Regions from separate parts of the Homo sapiens genome. Here region 2 is reported to be linked to region 1. The links are microRNA targets in miRTarBase. Many come from high-throughput screens and were not tested one by one. Region 1 holds a microRNA gene; the other region holds the end of a gene's coding sequence.

Region 1 (4,385 bases):
GCCGTGCCTCAGGGCGAAGATCTTCCCCAGTGAGATGGCAATGGCAAACCCAACCACAGCGATGGTGAAGGCGCTGCCCACGAGCTTTGAGAACAGCTGGGTGTTGGGGGCCACTGGGGGCACCAGCCTGTGAGAGGTATCTGTGAGGCCAAAGCAAGGTCCTGTCCTGGCTGCCCAACCCTCCCTGACCTGATGGAGGCCAGAGCTCACCCTGCAGGGATGTTGCCCACGACATCTACCTCAAATCTGTGCTTTAGACCCATGCCATAGGAGATGCCTGTGGCCCCGATGAGCTGTGGGAGAGGACAGAGTCAGGGAGGCAGGTGCTGGCACCATGGTCAGGGGGACACATAAACCACTGTGAGGTGAGGAGGGAGATACTGGGCAAAACCTTCTTCGAGGGTGGGAAAAAGTCACGTAGGGTGAGAGACAGGCAACACCATTTCGGCTATGGGGAGATGCTGTCAGGGGCAGGAAGAAACCAACATAGGGGCTTTCTGCTGTGCCCCCCACAATACCCAAGAACCCTCCCAGCCCCCCTCCAGCTGGCCCTCAAATACAGGAGGCTGCCCACGTGGCAAGGACCCAGCCTGACCTGCCCTTCTCCCCTGCCCTCCACTCCCTGGCCCTCGAACCGTGAGCAGCTCCCCGGGTATCGGCATGGGCAGCTGCTGCTGCAGCTTGTCATTCAACAGCTTCACCACCACGAGCACCACCCCAGCCACAGCTGCAGTGACCACGGTGCCAACCTTGCTCTGGGGCAGCTTCCAGCAGACCTCCAGCACTGTCTGAGGAGAGGCCAGGTCACAGCTAGCACTCAAGGCCATGGGGCACACCTACCCCTCCCTCCCCCTACCCTCACTCACATAGATGAGGGACAGTGGCCCAGAGTGGCTGCTCAGATGGAGGCCAAACACATACTTGAGCTGTGAGACGAAGACCTGCACAGCTGCAGCTGTGGTATAGCCTCGGACAAGAGGTTCTGACAGGTAGGTGACCACGAAGCCGAAGTGGATCAGGCCCAGCCCCACCTGTGGGGCGGCCAGGGGCAGTCAGGAGAGGCAGGGGTCCTGGGGTTGCTAATGAGGAGCGCAGGGCAAGTGGGATGGGAGGGGGATGAGTAGACGGCAAGAGGAGGACGACGATGGTCAGACACTCAGGGGAGTACAGACAGGACAGTGGCGGGAGCAGAAGTGGTGGTGGGGGGCACATACTCCTGACTGTTCCACACCTGGAAGAGGCCAACCAGGACACTGAGTGTGGAGGCCACCTGTACCCGGGCAGCATCTCTGGCTGTCTCATTGATCATGGAGTCGTTCAAGGCCTGCGGGGCCAGGGATTCTGTCACACTGCCCACCATCACAGACATGACAGCAAAGGTCCCTGTAAGGACGGCACGGGGCAGGTCTGAAGAGGAGAGGACACTGCCCTGCCCTGGAGCCCTGGTCTTAAGAGAGAGGCCAGGAGACTTCCAGTTCTGGATAAATGTACTCAGATTATGGCTGCATGAACAGGGACAGTGCTGGCGGTTCAGGTTTGGCCAGGCCAGGAGTAAACCCTGAGCTCACAGGCCCTTAAGCATGGCTAGAAATGCTGGCCCTGTCTCATCTACCCTGTCCCACCTGTGTCTACTGGTCCCGGGACACAGAGGCTCTCTGTGGAGTAGGGAAGGGGTCAGGGCTGGCCTTAGGCTGCTCAGGCCTCTGCCAAGTTCCAGGCCCCTTGGGCTGCCTCACCCACTCTCATCTTCCTGGAGCCAGGGCTTTGAGGTCACCTGCCTCTGTGGTCCTACAGTCAGGGGTCTAGTCCTGCCTGGGGATGACTCGTGGGCTAGCCCAGGGATGCAGCACCAATGCTGCCCTCTTCCCCAGCCGCTCCTGCCCTGCTCAGTGCCCCCTCACCCTGCCCTCCATGATGGATGTGGGCATCCTCCTGGAAGGCTAGGCCTGCCTCCACTTACCCACGGAGATGTGCCGGGAAGTGCCAAACAGGAAGTAGATGAAGACAGGGTAGAAGGAGCTATAGAGGCCAAACACGGGGGGCAATCCAGCCAGGAGGGCGTAGGCCAAGCCTAGGGGTAGAATGGTAGCAGTGCAGGCCTGGAGAGCAGATCTTGAAACGATAAGGGAATCCCAGCCCTGGGTTAGGTGCCATAGTTCCAAGGTAGAGGTCATGGCCCCAGTTTTGGGCATCACAGACCACAGGGTTTCCAGGCCGACGCACTGAAGGTGGCTCACCCTGCGGAAGCTGCATGATGGCCACACTCAGGCCGGATAACAGGTCACCCAGGAGCCAGTCACGCACAGGATACCGGGGTAACCAGACCAAAACCGGGAGGTGTTGGAGCAGAAGGGCATAGGCCCGAGCACGGGAGCACCTAGGGACATGATATGAGGGGTAGGTGTCAGGAACAGGGGCTACCTGGGCCCCGCCAGCGCCCCCAGGCCCCAATCTTGGCCTTACTGCAACCAGGTCCGCCACTGGTGGGTCCTAGGTGCTGAGCCCCAGCGCCCCAGCTCCTCCAAATGCTCCTGGTTCAGCAGCGGCCGTTCCATGTGGTAGTCTCGCCTCCGCAGGTCCATTGCTTGTGTTGCAGACAGCAGTGCCTGTGTGTCCCTCGGTCTGGGGTGGCAAGACCAGAGAGACACAGTGAAGGCATCCCTGGCCCAACCTCCCCTACACCTCCACCTAGGACCAGAGAGTTACCTACCTGATTTTTCCAGGCCCTAAGATCAAGGTACAGTATTCCAGCCCCCAGCTGGCATCTGTGGGCCACATGTCCAAACTCAGACAGGGGCAGTACCTGAACTTTGGCTGGTGAGAAAGCCTCTTTCTAGGACAAAGTCCCCCAAGTAGGGACTGCAGGATGAGCACTAGCTATACCTCCAGCCGAGATGTGGCAGCCCAGTGCTGAGTGTTCTACCAGTCCAGGTCCCAGGCTGCTCCCTCCCCCACCCAGTCCCTCTCCAGTCCCCAGGTCCTCCTCCAGCTGCCCCGGGAGCCCACTGCTGGCTGAGAGCACACTCAGGGAAGGGGTCCAGCAAACCAGGGGTCCAGCTCCTCAAGCAACTCCTTTCCCAAGCCTCAGGCCTCAGATGAGACCCTCCCCTCTAAGGGAAGGAAAGTGTTGGAGCCAAGCTTGCCCCTGGGCCTCCAGCCCCAGGGTCCAGGTTGTAGACGGCTCAGGCCTGTTATGGGGAAGCCAAGGACTGGCTCTCACCTGAGAAGGAGCTTGCTCTTGGAGTGGCAATCTCTCACCTAGAGGGAGAGGCTCCCACATGGAAAGGGAAGTACCCACTTGAAGTGGGGGAAAGAGCTCACCTGGGAATAGAAGCTTTCAAGGGGAATCTCACCTAGAGGGATCTCTGACCTACCAGGGAATCTTTATCAGCCTGGCAAGTTCTGATACAGGGGGAATCTTCCCTCTGCCCAGAGGCACCTACTTGAAGTCAGAGAAAGATCTCACATGGGAAGAAAAGACCTAGAGGGAGAGGGTTCTCACCTGGGGGGTACTCTCCCATAGAGAAAGCTCTGACCTCGGGCGAGGCTCCCACGTGGAATGGGGAAAAGCTGTCACCTGGGAATAGATCTCACAGAAGGATCTTACCTGGGGGAAAACTCTAGCCTGTTGGGGAAGCTTTCACCAGTCAGGAAAGTTCTGATCTAGGAAAAGCCCTGACCTGGGGAGAGGATCCCATTTGAGGGACAGGAACTCACCTGGGAAGCGCCTCTAACCTGGCTGTACTGTTGGAGGAGTGTGGAGTGGGTGCAAGGAAGATCCTCAGAGACTCTTGGGACCGCTATCTCAAGGAGATCGTAGAGCCCCCTCTCCTTTCCTACGTGAGTCACTCAGGTCTTCTTAAAGGGCTCCCTCCCCCGACAACTTGGGACCCGCGTTTGGAGGGCGGAGCCTTGATCATTGGCCCCTCCCTGTAGGAAGGCAACTGGGGCCAGAAAGGCCGGAGCGCTCACTCCGGGATCAGTGGAGCTGGGTGGACTCGGGACTCAGCTGAAAGCAGCTAGTCCACGGGCCGCTGCCAGGGACTCCCGTGCCCCACGCACCCCCGCCGGCACATCTCCTGGCCGGGCTCCTCCGCACGCAGCTGCCTCCCTGTGGCCCGGGATGGCCCTCGGGCGTCACACCAGCGGCTTTCCGCACAGCCCAAGGGACTGGGGTCGCGCCGGCTCCCGCCCCCACCCCTTGCTGCAGAGGGGCAGCCGCCTGCAGAAAATCAGCAGAGGTAAACCGAGGCGTCGCAAGCGGAGAATGCCTGCTCCAGCGAGGCGTCGCAAGCGGAGAATGCCTGCTCCAGCGAGGCGCTCGCGCGGGGCCACCGGGAATGTGCGCTGAACTCACCCCGACGCATCCGCCAGCCCCATGGCTC
Region 2 (4,385 bases), not on the chromosome of region 1:
GACTCAGTGGTGCTTTTTCCGTTTTCAGGAAGTGTTTTAGATCACAGTTTGGAAAGCCTCATCCACCGCCTTCGTGGTTTGTGTGACAACATGGAACCTGAGACTTTCCTTGACCATGAGATGGTATTCCTCCTTAAGGGCCAGCAAGCCAGCCCATTTGTTCTCAGGGCCCGACGCTCTATGGACAGGGCAGGGGCACCCTGGCATCTGCGCTACCTGGGACAGCCAGAAATGGGAGACAAGAACCGCCATGCCCTGGTGCGAAACTGCGTGGACATTGCCACATCTGAGAACCTCACCGACTTCTTGATGGAAATGGGCTTCCGCATGGACCATGAGTTTGTTGCTAAGGGACATTTGTTCCGTAAGGGCATCATGAAGATTATGGTGTACAAGATTTTCCGCATCCTGGTGCCAGGGAACACAGACAGCACTGAGGCCTTGTCACTCTCCTATCTCGTGGAATTAAGTGTGGTAGCACCCGCTGGGCAGGACATGGTCTCTGATGACATGAAGAACTTCGCAGAACAGCTAAAACCTCTGGTTCACCTAGAGAAAATAGACCCCAAGAGGCTCATGTGACTAAGAGGATCTGTCCACATTTGGGGCCTATCCTTACTTGTTTGAAAAAATATGTTTGCTTTTTTTGGTTTTTGTTTTGTTTTGTTTTTGAGACAGAGTCTCGCTTTGTTTCCCAGGCTGGAGTGCAGTGGCACGATCTCGGCTCACTGCAACCTCTGCCTCCTGGGTTCAAGCAATTCTCCCACCTCAGCCTCCTGAGTAGCTGGGATTACAGGCACATGCCACCATGCTCAGCTAATTTTTGTATTTTTAGTAGAAATGGGGATTCACCATGTTGGTCAGGCTATTCTCGAACTCCTGACCTCGTGATCCACCCACCTTGGCCTCCCAAAGTGCTGGGATTACAGGCATGAGCCACCACGCCTGGCCAAAAAAATATGTTTTAAATGTCCCATTTCACCATTGCCAGGCAGGCATTCTTCCTTCAGGGAGAGGATGGTGAGAATTAATTGGTTCTTTGCACTGTTCTCCTCATGTGGCGATTTCACTTTCATGACAGCCTTTCTATATTAAAGGCTCAGGATGTCACGGAGAATCTATCTAATCCCACTGTATTAAGAGGGGAAACCGGGCCAAGCGCAGTGGCTCACACCTCTAATCCCAGCACTTTGGGAGGCTGAGGTAGGTGGATCACCCAAGGTCAGGAGTTTGAGACCAGCCTGGCCAAATGGTGAAACCCCATCTCTACGAAAAATACAAAATTTAGCCGGGCATGGTAGCAGGCGCTTGTAATCCCAGCTACTTGGGAGGCTGAGGCTGGAGAATCGCTTGAACCCAGGAGGTGAAGGTTGCAGTGACCAGAGATGACGCCATTGCACTCCAGCCTGGGTGAGAAGAGCGAAACTCCGTCTCAAAAAAAAATAAAAATGAAGAGGGGAAACCAGAATAAATTATCTTTTGGAAAGGACAATTTCTTGTTTGGCCATTTGTGTATAAGGTTGGTAACATTAGAGGCTGTGAGCTTGTGTTACATGGTAATAAAGCCAATGAAGAGACATGTCTGTGTAATTCTGATTCTTTATTCCCTTACCCTGTAAATTTGGGGTAGATTCATTACCAGTTGAAGCAAAAAAAATGACAGTTCCTAGTTTTAATTGTGGCAGAGATGAGGATGAGAGTTTTCACCTTTCATAAAAGTAGCATATTTATTGTTGAAAACTTTTAAAATATAGTACAGATAGAAAATAACACCTATTATCCAAAGAGAAGTACTAGTTCTATTTTGGTATATATCCATCTAGTCTTTATTTTTTTATAAATTTATGTATATGAAATGTGTTTATTTTATAAAAAGATTCCATATATACTGGTTTATAACCCTTTTTTCCCATTCATCTATCATTAACATCTTTCCAGGACATTTGTCTACACTCCCCTTTTGTTAAAAAAAATTTTTTTTTTTTTTTGAGACAGAGTTTCGCTCTTGTTGCCCAGGCTGGAGTGCAGTACTGCGATGATCTCAGCTCACTGCAACCTCCACCTCCCAGGTCCAAGTGATTCTCCTGCCTCAGCTTCCCAAGTAGCTGGGATTACAGGCATGGGCCACCATGCCCGGCTAATTTTTTTTTTTTTTGAGATGGAGTACAGTGGCGCACTCACGGCTCACTGCAAGCTCCGCCACCCGGGTTCACGCCATTCTTCTGCCTCAGCCTCCCGAGTAGCTGGGACCACAGGCGCCCGCCACCACGCCCGGCTAATTTTTTGTATTTTTAGTAGAGACGGGGTTTCACAGTGTTAGCCAGGATGGTCTCAATCTCCTGACCTCGTGATCCGCCCCGCTCGGCCTCCCAAAGTGCTGGGATTACAGGCGTCAGCCACCGCGCCCGGCCTTAATTTTTTGTATTATATTTTTTATTTTCGAGAAAGGGTCTCACTGTTGTCCACGCTGGAGTGCAGTGGCATTGTGTTTTTAAGAAACGGTGTTTCGGGCAGGGCGCGTTGCTCACGCCTGTAATCCCAGCATTTTGGGAGGCCGAGGTGGGCAGATCATGAGGTCAGGAGATCAAGACCATCCTGGCTAACACGGTGAAACCCCGTCTCCACTAAAAATACAAAAATTAGCCGGGCGTGGTGGCGGCCGCCTATAGTCCCAGCTACTCGGGAGGCTGAGGCAGGAGAATTGCTTGAACCCGGGAGGCGGAGCTTACAGCGAGCTGAGATCGCGTCACTGCAGTACAGCCTGGGCGACAGAGCAAGACTCCGTCTCAAAAAAAAAAAAAAAGAAGAAGGAAACGGTGTTTCACCATGTTGGTCAGGCTAGTCTCGAACTCCCTACCTCAGCCTCACCAAAGTACTGGGATTACAGGCATGAGCCACCGCACCCGGCCAAAATTTTTTTCTTTTTAAAGCTAGTTTATTGAGTTCCTGTTATGTGTCAGTGCTATCCTAAGTGCTTCAGGTATGTTAAACCCGTTTTGTAAACAGGAGAACTGGTACATATAGATTAATTAACTTTCCCTGAGCTATACAGCTACTGATTGGCAGAGCTGGTATTTAAATATTGACAATTATAATTGCTATTTCTATTTCATCATATGGATTTGCTATAAGTTATCTAATTGAATCCTCTATGATTTTCAGTTTGATCCCATTTTTTTTGCTTTTATAAGCTGTGTAACAATAGAGCTTTTATTTATTTATTTTTTTGAGACAGAGTCTTGCTCTGTCGCCCAGGCTGGAGTGCAATGGCATGATCTCAGCTCACTGCAACCTCCGCCTCCTGGGTTCAGGTGATTTCCAGCTAATTTTTGTATTTTTAGTAGAGAGGGGGTTTCACCATGTTGGCCAGGCTGGTCTCGAACTTCTGAACTCAAGTGATCTGCCTGCCTCAGCCTCCCAAAATGCTGGGATTACAGACATGAGCCACTGTGCCTGGCCTGATATGTACTTGTTACTCTATGTAAATCTAACTCATAACTTCCAACTTGCATATGCTTTCATACTAATAAAAGTATTAGTGTTTAAATAGTGTTTGCTCCATGACAGGTACTTTATTTTTATTATTTATTAATTCATTTATTTTTTGAGACAGAGTCTTGCTCTGTCACCCAGGGTGGAGTGCAGTGGTGCCATCTCGGCTCACTGCAACCTCCTTCTCCCGGGTTCAAGCGATGCCCCTACCTCAGCCTCCTGGATAGCTAGGATTACAGGCATGTGCTACCACGCCCAGCTAATTTTGATTTTTTTTTTTTTTTTTTGAGAGGGAGTTTTGCTCTTGTTGCCAGGCTGGAGTGCAATGATGCAATCGCAGCTCACTGCAACCTCTGCCTCCCGGGTTCAAGCGATTCTCCTGCCTCAGCCTCCCGAGTAGCTGGGATTACAGGCGGCCACCACCATGCCCAGCTAATTTTTGTATTTTTAGTAGAGATGAGGTTTCACCATGTTAGCCAGGATGGTCTTGATCTCCTGACCTTGGGTGATCCACCTGCCTTGGCCTCCCACAGTGCTGGAATTACAGACTTGAGCCATCGCACCCAGCCATGACAGGTACTTTAAATGTTTCAACTCATGTACTTCTCATAACAACTGTATGAGGGTTGTGAGTTGTTATTATTTCCATTTTATAGATGAGGTTATACAGAGAGGTTTCTCAATTTTTTTTTTTTTTTCAGATAGTCTTCTCACTCTGTTGCCTAGACTGGAGCGCAGTGGCACAATCACAGCTCACTGCAGCCTCGACATCCCAGGCTCAGGTGGTCTTCCAACCTCAGCTTCCCAGGTAGCTGGGACTACAGGCATGCACCACCACACCTGGCTAATTATTGCATTTTTTTGTAGAGATAGGGTTTCACCACGTTGCCCAG

What was found. The annotated mature microRNA hsa-miR-6824-3p reads UCUCUGGUCUUGCCACCCCAG and lies in region 1 at 2,623-2,643, opposite strand. An mRNA with a match to its seed (bases 2 to 7 or 8) in the 3' UTR can be bound and repressed. Matches are read on the target gene's strand: a 7mer-m8 pairs with bases 2 to 8, a 7mer-A1 pairs with bases 2 to 7 and ends in A, and an 8mer does both.
Region 2: miRTarBase lists MED18 as a target of hsa-miR-6824-3p. Seed matches in the 3' UTR shown: 8mer at 1,379-1,386.

The regions. Positions count from the first base shown.
Region 1 is chr3:48,631,014-48,635,398 of GRCh38, forward strand. It overlaps MIR6824 (microRNA 6824), which reads right to left and starts at 2,685; the gene lies at 2,623-2,685. It overlaps SLC26A6 (solute carrier family 26 member 6), which reads right to left. Exons shown (of 21, transcript NM_022911.3): 1 at 4,358-4,385; 2 at 2,464-2,622; 3 at 2,238-2,377; 4 at 1,961-2,071; 5 at 1,232-1,383; 6 at 867-1,031; 7 at 636-788; 8 at 211-293; 9 at 1-127. The coding sequence starts at 4,380. RefSeq lists silencers at 3,887-3,986, 4,377-4,385.
Region 2 is chr1:28,334,389-28,338,773 of GRCh38, forward strand. MED18 (mediator complex subunit 18) reads left to right here. Exons shown (of 3, transcript NM_017638.3): 3 at 29-1,577. The coding sequence ends at 582. Among named protein-coding and RNA genes, the nearest start is that of MED18, 7.5 kb to the left of the region's middle.